Linked DNA regions of Homo sapiens. The protein of the gene in region 2 interacts with the protein of the main gene of each other region in a pairwise test. Each region holds a gene or a part of one and is shown on either strand. Other genes may lie near its edges. The genes, in order: ATG2A, CPEB2 and SPARC.

Region 1 (3,748 bases), on a different chromosome or scaffold from region 2:
GGCCATCCTTCCTGTACTGCTCAATGGGCAGCCACAGCAGGTCCCGGAACCCTTGGACTAGGGGGAAGGAGCGCTCAGAGACACCCGAGGCTGCCCTGCCCCCACCTCCTCCTCTTATTCCCAATGGCAGCTTCTAGGTTGCCCAAGGGTAAAAGCAGTTTCGAGGGCTTCCAAACCTAGACACTCACAGAGCTGGACAACCGAGTGCATGGGGCCCACGCCTCCCAGCAGGCCGGGCAGCTGGTTCTTGCGGATGTCCTGCAGCCACTCGTTGAGGGCATAGCCCAGCACCTTGTCCACACCCAGGAGCCTGGCAGGGCAGGGAGGTGAGGAGGCAGAAGGTGAGGCAGAGCCACACATGGAGGGATTGTGGGGTCAGGAGGACTCAGTACCCCTGTGGCAAGTACTGTGGGCACTCTACCCTCCCTGTGGTCCCACCCAGTCATGTGCAGAGGGACTGTGTCCTTTTTTTTTTTTTTTAGATGGAGTCTTGCTCCGTTGCCCAGGCTGGAGTGAAGTGGTGCGATCTTGGCTCACTGCAACCGCCTCCCAGGTTCAAGCAGTTCTCCTGCCTCAGCCTCCTGAGTAGCTGGGATTACATGTGTATGCCACCACGCCTGGCTAATTTTTGTATTTTTAGTAGAGACGGGGGGGTTTCACCATGTTGGTCAGGCTGGTCTCGAATGCCTGAATGTGTGAGCCATCATGCCCAGCCAACTGCGTCCTTTTTACAGAGGAGAAACTGAGGCCCTGAGAAGGGTGATGACTTGGCCAAGGCCACACAACCAGTCAGGACCAGAACAGAAGGAAGATCAGGGACCCTGGAGAGAGGCTGGGGTGCTGGGGACTCACCCGTGCCTGCAACAGAGCCGCTTTAGCTTCAGCTCGGAGCAGTTGAGTTGGGCCAGGCCGATGAGGAGGCCAGCAAAAGTGCCCTGGGAGAGGGAGGGGGTCCAGGTTTACCCAATGGGACTCAGGGAGCTAGCTAGCCCATGGGAGCCACTGGAGAGCGCCCTGGCTGCTAACAGTGCCTGGATGCAAGACCTGGCCCCCAGAGGGACTCAGCCACAGCTGACCCCACATGGCCACCCCATCCGACCGCCCCACTTACCACCTGGTCCATCGTGACGTGCTTGCCATGGTAATCCAGCCAGATGGGGACCTCAGACGTGAAGCGGAACTCTCTGGGTAGGGGAGCAGGAAGAGGGGGTTCTTTGCTCACTGGCCTGGCCCCCAGCAATCTGGCCCAGGGCCCCCCACCCGCAGTCCAGCAGCCTACCTGAAGTAGATGGGCTGCTGGTCAGGAGGGGAGGGGCTGTGTCCACCTCCTGGGGCCTCCTGCGAACCAGTGGTCTCTACGCCTTCGGCCTGCCCTTCCAGGGGGCTGCTGGGCTGGGCTCGAGTCTCGGGGCGAGCTAGGGGAGGGGAGGTCACAGACTGGGGATGGGGCCAGGAATGACTGGGAACCTGTGCTGTCCTGGGAGGCAGAAGGCCCAGACGCTCCCCTCCCTGGCCCAGCCTCTCACCCTCAGCGGAGGTCTCCCCTGGGACCACGGGGTTGATGCCGGCCACCAGACTAGTGAAGAAGTCCTTGAGGAAGAAGAGGGCATCCTGCAAGGGAGAGGTCCAGATGTGGATCAGACTCAGAGGCCTGGAGACAGTGGGGTCACCCTAGGCTCTGCCCTCACGTAGACCACTCACCTGGTCCACATTGAGCCGCAGGGGCATCAGCGAGACGCGGAGACAGCACTCAGGCCCACCCAGGTTGGTAGTGGGGGCCACATGCAGCGCTTTGATGGTGAGCTGGGAGCAGAGGGTGAGTTCTGGACACCTGCTGGGCCTCTGGGGCAGCAGCTCACCCAGCTGTTCCCTGACAGCTCACCCAGCCACCCTGCCTCTGAACACGCTGTTCCCTTCGCTAACACAGCCCCTAGCTCTGCCCTTCTCCCAGGCTCACAAACAACCTGGGTGTTTGTGTGGGAATGCGTGTATGTGTGTGAATCCATGCATGCGTGAAGATGTATCCCCAACGGTCTGGTGCCCTGCCCCAGGGTGGATGGTGCAGGTCGCTCATACCATGTTAGAGTGGGCACGTCGCGGCATCCGCTCACTCGTGTGTAGGTACAGGAACTTGTTGATCTGGGAGGAGGCGAGCCGGTCTCGGACCTCCAGCTCCTGCACGATGAACACCTGACGGGACAGCGGTCGCTCCTCCAGCTCCTGGCTGGGGGCCGCAGGGCCTGTGGCTGGCTCCGCTGGGTACACCTCGTGCTGGAAGCTTACCTGTGGGGTGGACAGAGGCCTGGCCAGGTAAGCAGGGCCCCAAGAGGGAGGGAAGGGCTGGCCCCAGACCCCTTCTCTATTCTTTTTTTGAGACAGAGTCTCACTCTGTCGCCCAGGTTGGAGTGCAGTGGCGTGATCTCGGCTCACTGCAACCTCTGCCTCTCGGGTTCAAGCGATTCTCCTGCCTCAGCTTCCCCAGTAGCTGGGATTGCAGGCATGTGCCACCACACCCAGCTAATTTTAGTAGAGACAGGGTTTCACAACGTTGGCCAGGCTGGTCTCGAACTCCTGGCCTCAAGTGATCTGCCTGCCTCGTCCTCCCAAAGTGCTGGGACTACAGGCATGAGCCACCATGCCCGGCCCCTACCCCTTCTCTATTCTATGCCCAGCAGGGACCTGCCTCTCCCTCCAGACCTGACCCTGCTCTTGCTTCCCATGCCAGCTGCACTGGTCTCTGCCCCTCAAGGAGTCCAGGCCTGTTTTGCCTTCAGGACTTTGCTCTCGTAGCCCCTCTCCGTGGAGAGCCTTCCTTCCCCCTCTTCCTGCACACCCGCTGGCTGGCCATCAGGTCTCAGAGAGGCCCCTGGCCCCCTGCTCTGACACTCATCTCCCGCAGGTTCTTGCAGCACAGCCCACCAACCCGAGCAGCCTGAGGCCCCTCTGCCCTTTGCCTCTAGCGGCTCCTTGGGAAGCCCAGCACTGGCCTGGCTCACTCTGAGCAAGTGGGACCCCCCTGCCCCAGGCAATTTCCCAGGCCCAAACCTTGAACCCTCTGTACCACTCTCTGTATCTCACACACCCCATCCGCAGCTGAACCTGTGGCCAGCCCCCATCTAGGCTCTCCTGAACCTGCTCACTAGCCCTCCCTGATTGCTGCAGAGCCCCACCCCACAGAGGCCTCTCCTCAAAAGCCCTGAGGGGTTCGTCTCTTGTAAGACTCAAAAGAAACATTCTGGGTCGCTGGTTATGCACAGGCTCTGCTGCTCCTGGAAATGTCAGGATGCTTCCAGCTTCCAGCATTTTTTTTTTTTTTTGAAACAGAGTCTTACTCTGTTGCCCAGGCTGGAATGCAATAGGGCGATCTCAACTCACTGCAACCTCTGCCTCTTGGGCTCAAACAACTCTCCTGCCTCAGCCTCCTGAGTAGCTGGGACTATAGGCACACACCACTGCAAATGGTTAATTTTTTTTTTTTTTTTTTTTGGTAGAAATGGGGTTTCGCCATGTTGCCCAGGCTGGTCTCAAACTCCTGAGCTCAGGTGATCTGCTCTCTTCGGCCTTCCAAAGTGCTGGGATTACAGGCATAAGCCACCATGCCTGGCCCCAATTTGCGGCTTTCACGCTGTCCTCTCTGCCTGAAAACTCTTCCTGGCTCACATCCCCACTTGTTCAGGTCTTTGTTCAAATGGTGCCTTCAGAAGAGGACTTTCCAGACCCTCCCCAGCACACCTGTCTCCTCCACCCC
Region 2 (3,748 bases):
TGAGCTCTGTAAGAAAGAACCTGCATATATAAGGACTGAGTTTTCTATAACCTATAATAATCCTCACCACCTGGTACCTAGTATACATTCAAATTCAGTTTGCAGGAAGAAAGATAGCATTTTGTAACCACCAAAGGTGTAAATGTAATTTGATTAAGGCTAACTCCCAGCTTTTTGACTAACGGTTTCTCCATAGGAAACTGATTATTTGGAATAAGTCAGGGTATAAAAGCAGTAACAAAATTTAGAATACTAGGCTATATATTTTTTAATAAAGGTGAAAAAACTGAACCAAGAGAAGTCTTTTTTAGAAATATATCTCAAAACAAATACAGACTTCATGACAAAAATTTACTGAAAAGTTCTATGAAACATCAAATATAAAGCTAGATGTTAAGTAAACATATGATTTTGTACCTAATTGCATTTAATTCTGAAAAGAGATACAATCTGCTTAGTTTGACTGATGTTTAAAGTCAGGTGCTCTTGTGTATATAATTCCTTTTTCCAAAAAAAGTTTATTATGTTTTAGAATTATAAAAGGATTACTCTTAAATTTGAAAATAAAAAATTTCTTACATTAAATAGTTCAAAGCAGGTGATCCTTAAAAAATAAATTGCTTCAGTGTCCTCTAACATATGTTTCAATAGGTATAATAAGAAAGTAAATAATAAATCCTACTCATAATATAAATACTAAACTCCTAACCGAAATCCTAAAAAGTATACACTGTGCAGCCTACCTGGTCTATTCTGGATGTTCCGGCTGCAGTGCACCAACTATCTTGGAGTGAATCTGAGCCCCAAGCTGGCAACTGCAAACTAGATCTCACCTTCAATAGCATAGAAGTTTTCATCAGAAATGAGCAGTTGTCTTCCCCATACCCACCCAACGAAAGAAAGAAAGAAAACAAAAAATAAAGCTCTATCTTAAATCCTCATTCCATCCTCTAAAGGTTTAAGAAAAAAACAAAACAAAACAAAAACCTCACTTGCAATAGCCATAAGGGAACTTCAAGAAAATAATAAAAATACTGAAAGAAAAAAAAAGTCTAATCAACGTATTAGGCCACATTTAGAAAAAATAATCGGTGAATTAGTGAAGATAAATTTAAATTAGATGCAAAAAAGCCCTAATATTATTTTGCCACAATCACAGCTGTACTAAGTATATTCTAATATATATACAGCCAATTATAGTCAATTCTAAGAACAGTTACAATTACAGAACATATTAGCTTAGCTATATTAAAGGAGAAACAAATTTTGGTGGCCCATTAGAATTTATAAATTAAAGCATTCTTAAAGAGCTGCTAATTGAAAGCTTCAGTATGTATTTAATAAATACAAAAGGTTTTTCTACGTTTTACTAAGCTTATTTTCCATTGCGTGTTTAGAGAATTATTTTACATTCTCAATTTTCTCTGTATAGATATTTTAACCTTTGTTAATTAAATTACATGCTTAAAAATTAAAACTTTATTTCAAAAAATGTTAATTTTAGCATACCACTACCACCACCACCCAACTCCCTATTTTGAAAGATTAACATTAGAGATAAGGTCATTTACATACCATTCTTACCTGTAAGGGTAAGAGTGTATTACTATTGTTGTCTGTTCTGAACACATTATCTTCAATCCAAGATTTTGGAGTCAGTGATGGAGTTGAGCGAGTAAATTTCGGTGGTGCTATGACATTACCAGAAAACGGTTTCTTCAATGGAGATATCTGATTCATAGTTCCTGGGATTCCCATGTTTCCGGTTCTACGATGATCTCTGCCATGCATTGCTCCCCAGGACATACTTCCAGTGCCCCAGCCACTGCTCTGATGGTTGCTCCAGGGAGACTGTTTCAGAAGAGGCTAGGGAAAACATAGCTATTTAAATTGCGGCATTTAAAGAATTTACAATTCAAATTCAAATTCAAATTTCAGACCTAAGAATTTATATGAATGAAATATATAAAGGCAAAAGAATACATCTTTTCTAGGTTATAAAAGTAACAGTCTTGAGATCTTTCTATGTGAAATCATATTTGATGCTGGTCAAGTTTTCATCTTCTTGTATACTATAAATATCATGATATTTTATGACAGTTACTAAAATAGAACCATGCAGTTCCTTTTTATCCTTCAGAGATAACTGTATACATGATAAATATGAAGAAAAAAATTGAAATTAACTCTGAAGATTCTTAAAGATATAACATACATGGTGATCTTAAAGCAACCATATTAATTATGCTAGGCACACAACTAAAAATATGGTCTTTGTTAATTAAAATATCCTACTCATACAAGTGAAATATATAGACTTTATGTTTCCAAAACAAGTTGCACTACTACAAAAGTGGGAATTACTCTTGTACAAATTAAAATCGCCTTTTGAAATAAGGACAGTATAGAAACTATGTCATTTTTCTGCATTGTTTATTTAACTGTTAAGGCATTTTATTCCAGTTTTAGCATAGTTTGTCTTAATTGTTTTTATTTCACTTAATTATCCATAAACTGTGAAGCAATTATCTGATGTTGCCCATAGGTGGATCCACTGAGGTATACTGCTAATTAACTATATGCTTTGATTATTCCACTAGAGATCTTGATACAAGTCTCCATCAAGTTGATTCATTTTCAAAAGTAAATTACATCCTAATCTCAAACCTGTGGCAAGACAAGTCAAATCATCAAAGAATGGTAAATCCATCAAAACGCTAATAATTGTAGTTTTGGGTTTTTTTTTTTTTTAAGAAGTATTCATTGCTGGTAATTCTACTGTCAGTAAGTTTATACTTTAATACTTTGGTGTTAAGATGTAGCTAAAGAAGTATGAACCATACAGTTACTACAAATAAATATGGTTCTCTTAAAATTGAACCTGCTTTTTGTAAGACAATTAAAAGAGAAACTCCTGATCTACAGCACCAATTTTTAAACACTTTTAAATGCTAACATAATCATGAGTATATTATTACTCTTTCCTCTTCCACAGAGGTCCAAAGCATAATTACAGAGCCATGGACAAACCACTTCATTCTTGAGGGCCTTACTCTCCTTATTAAATGATTTAATGCTCAAAGTTATCTTCCAGTGATCTAAAATTCCATATGAAAGCTGTGTGACCTCTCACACTCCATGGCTAGACCCATCTTTTGTCCAAAAGCAAATTACAGTTAAATATGGATCATGGTATATGTTCTTCCAACGCTCTGTACCACAACTTTAAGTAAATACAAAATTACCTACAGATAATTTTCTGTGGGCAAGTTTCCAGATAACAAAATGAAGATCCTGAGACACAAAAGACAGTTGCTGAGGGTTATAAAAATCATGAAAAAGTGGAACATTATTTCAAAATCCCTATTTTCAATCCTCATAGGCCACATTCTCTTTTCTAAGAAAGAAATCAGTGATTCAACAAAAACTGTTCACTGTCACTTTGGTTAACTTAGATAAACTGTTAACTTTCACTTGGGTTAATTTAGATAATATTCACTTTAAAAAGACTAATCCTTGAAAACTTTGGTCAACTGAAAAAGTTATGGGGTTAAGGTCATATTTTGCGTCTCTGTCAATCCTTAATCACGAAAATAGAAAATGGACTTAAACAGAATGAACTCTGCAACAAATGCTAACAAGATTCAAAACCAACAAGACACTCTTTCAATGCCAATTTACCAATCTAGCGGTCACCCAAAAATTGTATTGAGGGAATAACAAAAAAGATCTTGAATCAAAAAAGATC
Region 3 (3,748 bases), on a different chromosome or scaffold from region 2:
CTATATGACCTCAGGCTAATGACATTCCTTGCTTAACCCTCAGTGTCCCCATCTCTGAAATGGACAAGGATATTGGTATCAGCGAAGGGCTTTGGGAATGAAGGAGGGGGTACTCTGTGCTTTGCCAACAGGTGTGCAGCAATGACAACAAGACCTTCGACTCTTCCTGCCACTTCTTTGCCACAAAGTGCACCCTGGAGGGCACCAAGAAGGGCCACAAGCTCCACCTGGACTACATCGGGCCTTGCAAATGTGAGTGTCCTTGGGCCCTTCCAGACTCCTGTCTTGGGGAGAGAGCTCTGAGCTGGCACTGATGCTGTCTCTGCCACCCCCATGCTGGGTGATCTTGGGCAAATCTCTCTCCCTTTCTGAGTCTCGGCATCCCCATTTATAAAATGAGGTAATTGTCTATGAGTTGGCTCCTCTCAACTCTGAGTTCAGGGCACTTTCTGGGGAAGGACTGAGCGATTATGGAAGGTCAACATCAGGGAAGATTTCTGGAGTCTCTCACTAGCATCTGAGACAACTGCATTTCATTTCTCTAATGAGGAAGAATTTCTTCTCTCAGGCTAAGTTGAATCTTTCTTGCTTCAACACTGTAAAGCAAAAATGATGTTTGACCTGGGCCTACAAAATATTTTGAAAATATCTGATTTTGAATGCTTTAAAATAAGGGCATGCCTGTCGGTTTGCTTTGGGCCCTGTTACTTGGTACTGTCATATCTTCACCCTTTTACTCCATTACATTCCTATCTGCCCTCCGAAGAGAGAGGATAAGCACCCTCTTCTGGAAACCTGGGAGTCAGTTGTCTGGGGAGGGATGCCAGGGTGTGGTCTGATCTTTGGTTAGTGACCCCAGCTGCAAACTCAGTGGGGCCAAGTGCCTTGTTCAGTATCCTCCCTATCATGGGAGACCCCCAAGACCACACCTGCTCCCCCTCCAAGGCAACATCCACACTGTGGGTCTTGTGTATTCTGGCACCCGATGGCAATGAGGAGAGCCACTCACCTACCTCAGGTGTACAGGGTGCAGAAAAGTATGTAGGGGGTGGGAAACAAAGTTCTCCTCGTGGGACCCCAGGTATGAAATTGAGAAGGTACAGAGTAGAAAAGGAGGGTTGGGGGAAGAAGCATGGGTAGGAAGTCCCTGGGCAGCAAGACTAGAGAGCCTGTCTTAAGGAGTCTTTATGAAGTGGCTTTGCTTTCCCTGAGGCATGTTGCCCACTCACTTCAACTCCTAAGGTTTTTATCACCAGATATTCTCTCCCAGACCCCAGCTGATGATGAAGGTAGCCTCACAGAGGGGACTTTCCCTGGTTCAATGATGAGGGAAGAACAGACCCCTAAGCCCCCAGGTGACCACACTGCCCTGGATGCTGGATGAGGCTCTGACATTGTGGCCTTGAGCAAGTCCCTTCTCTCCATGCTGACCTCTAATAAGTCCAGTACAAAGTGTGAACCTGGGTCAGGCGCGGTGGCTCACGCCTGTAATCCCAGCACTTTGGGAGGCCGAGTAGGGAGGATCACTTGAGCTCAGGAGTTCGAGACCAGTCTGGGCAACGTGGCAAAACCTTGTCTCTGGAAAATATACAAAAATTAGCTGGGTATGGTGGCATGTGCCTGTAGTCCCAGCTACTCAGGAGGCTGAGGAGGGAGGATTGGTTGAGTCCAGGAGGCTGAGGCTGCAGTGAGCCGTGATTGTGCCACTGCACTCCAGCCTGGGCAACAGAGTGAGACCCTGTCTAAAAAAAAAAAAAAGAAGAAAAAAAGAAAAAAGAAAAGAAAAGGAAAAGAAAAGTGTGGACTTGGATGAAATCTTCAGGTCCAACATTTGGGATTCTAAGTTCCAAAGACCAGGTTGGAATCATTTCTAAGAAGGTTCTGGTGGTTACACATTCCTGAGTCCTCTACTCCCCACTCCCTGCCAAGCTGGGCCTGTGGATAGATGTGATCCCTCAGCCTCCCAGCTTCAAACACCTGCCAGTGGTTGACGTGAACAACATGGGCTCAGTCTCAGCTAGGATCACACCCAAAGCCCAGCACCCAGTAAGGTGCAGGAGCCATCCATTTCCCTGAGCAGAGCAGATTAGGCTGAGGAAAGCAGCAGCCATGCCTTTGCACAATGCATTTCTAGGGCATTCTTCCCACACATAATCTCCTCTGCTCATTGTCCTGTGAAGAAACTGTGGCCTGGAGAGGTTGAGCCACTGTGCCAAGGCCACCAATGCAGGTGGTATGTGGGTGGGTGGGGGCCTGGGGTGGGGAGCACGGCCCAGGCAGGGTCTGTGCTGACCGCCCTTGTGTTTGGAACCTAGACATCCCCCCTTGCCTGGACTCTGAGCTGACCGAATTCCCCCTGCGCATGCGGGACTGGCTCAAGAACGTCCTGGTCACCCTGTATGAGAGGGATGAGGACAACAACCTTCTGACTGAGAAGCAGAAGCTGCGGGTAAGTGGTCTCTCTGGCCTTGCTGGCCCCGTGCTGGTGAAGATCCAGTCCCATTCCTAGAACTGGGCCCCCAGCTGCAGGGCGGCATCCTGCTCCGGAGCGTGCATTTACCCCTGAGCACCAGGACACGTACTTCTCTTCCTGCCTTTGGAGGCTGTGGTGCACATTAACATCTTAGAGGCTCTGAGAAGTCCTGCAGCAGAGACCTGCTCCCTTTGCTTAACCTAACGTTAAACAAAAGAGACACAAACAGCCCTATTCCTTTTTCCTTTGGAGTCTGTGGATCTTAAGCTTTAATGAGCATATTAACTACCCCAAGAAGCTGATAAAATGCAGATTCCTTGGCCCCATCTCAGGCCACTGAAACAGTGTCTCTAGAAAGCAAGGCCCAGGAAGCTGCATTCTAAATACTCCCCAGGTGATTTATGTTTATTTTATTTTTTTGAGGCAAAGTCTCACTCTGTTGCCAGGCTGGAGTGCAGTGGTGCGATCTCGGTTCACTGCAACCTCCACCTCCTGGGTTCAAGTGATTCCCCTGCCTCAGCCTCCTGAGTAGCTGGGACTGCAGGCATGCTACCACACCTGGCTAATTTTTGTATTTTTAGTAGAGATGGAGTTTCACTGTGTTGGCCAGGCTGGTCTCAAAACTCCTGGCCTCAGGTGATCTGCCTGCCTCAGCCTCCCAAAGCGCTGGGATTACAGGTGTGAGTGTGTGCCCGGCCTTCGCCAGGTGATTTTGATGTGGGTAGCTATATGGAGAATTCTTTGAGGTCATCCCAGGCTTCTATTTTTGTGAATGAGATGCTAGTACCCATCTATGACACCTCCCTCCCCTCGCTGTGAGCTTTGGTCTGGCTAGTCTCTGCCTGCTCTGGCCTTCTGGGAGGGGTGGGAGGGCCCGACTGGTCCAGACAATCTCCATGGACCTCTTGTCACACACAGTCTCTACTCCCTCAGGTGAAGAAGATCCATGAGAATGAGAAGCGCCTGGAGGCAGGAGACCACCCCGTGGAGCTGCTGGCCCGGGACTTCGAGAAGAACTATAACATGTACATCTTCCCTGTACACTGGCAGTTCGGCCAGCTGGACCAGCACCCCATTGACGGGTAAGACCCCAGACCCTAGAGTGAACAGAGCTCAAGGCTGGCAGGTGCACTAGCTATGGCCAGAAAGCCTCTCAGCAGCCTATACTGCTCCAAGCCCTGGCATCCACAGTTTGCCTGGGGATTGGAGCAGAAGGATGAGGCATCTGGAGAAAAGATGTGGACCTGGGACAAAGAAACCGATAAGACACTCTCA

The links.
Region 1: the proteins of CPEB2 (region 2) and ATG2A interact in a two-hybrid assay, tested with the Homo sapiens proteins (one study listed by BioGRID).
Region 3: the proteins of CPEB2 (region 2) and SPARC interact in a two-hybrid assay, tested with the Homo sapiens proteins (one study listed by BioGRID).

What each region holds. Positions count from the first base shown.
Region 1 is NC_000011.10:64,896,560-64,900,307, forward strand, and holds part of ATG2A (autophagy-related protein 2 homolog A), read right to left. Parts: intron 2,284-3,748; coding exon 2,077-2,283; intron 1,879-2,076; exon of another isoform or gene 1,804-1,878; coding exon 1,702-1,803; intron 1,612-1,701; coding exon 1,527-1,611; intron 1,416-1,526; coding exon 1,280-1,415; intron 1,185-1,279; coding exon 1,112-1,184; intron 936-1,111; coding exon 853-935; intron 311-852; coding exon 189-310; intron 58-188; coding exon 1-57. UniProt on the Homo sapiens protein: Lipid transfer protein involved in autophagosome assembly. Tethers the edge of the isolation membrane (IM) to the endoplasmic reticulum (ER) and mediates direct lipid transfer from ER to IM for IM expansion.
Region 2 is NC_000004.12:15,005,423-15,009,170, reverse strand, and holds part of CPEB2 (cytoplasmic polyadenylation element-binding protein 2), read right to left. Parts: intron 2,701-3,748; exon of another isoform or gene 2,601-2,700; intron 1,867-2,600; coding exon 1,585-1,866; coding exon of another isoform or gene 1,576-1,584; intron 834-1,575; coding exon 744-833; intron 1-743. UniProt on the Homo sapiens protein: May play a role in translational regulation of stored mRNAs in transcriptionally inactive haploid spermatids. Binds to poly(U) RNA oligomers. Required for cell cycle progression, specifically for the transition from metaphase to anaphase.
Region 3 is NC_000005.10:151,666,168-151,669,915, reverse strand, and holds part of SPARC (SPARC isoform 1 precursor), read left to right. Parts: intron 1-131; coding exon 132-252; intron 253-2,315; coding exon 2,316-2,449; intron 2,450-3,406; coding exon 3,407-3,555; intron 3,556-3,748.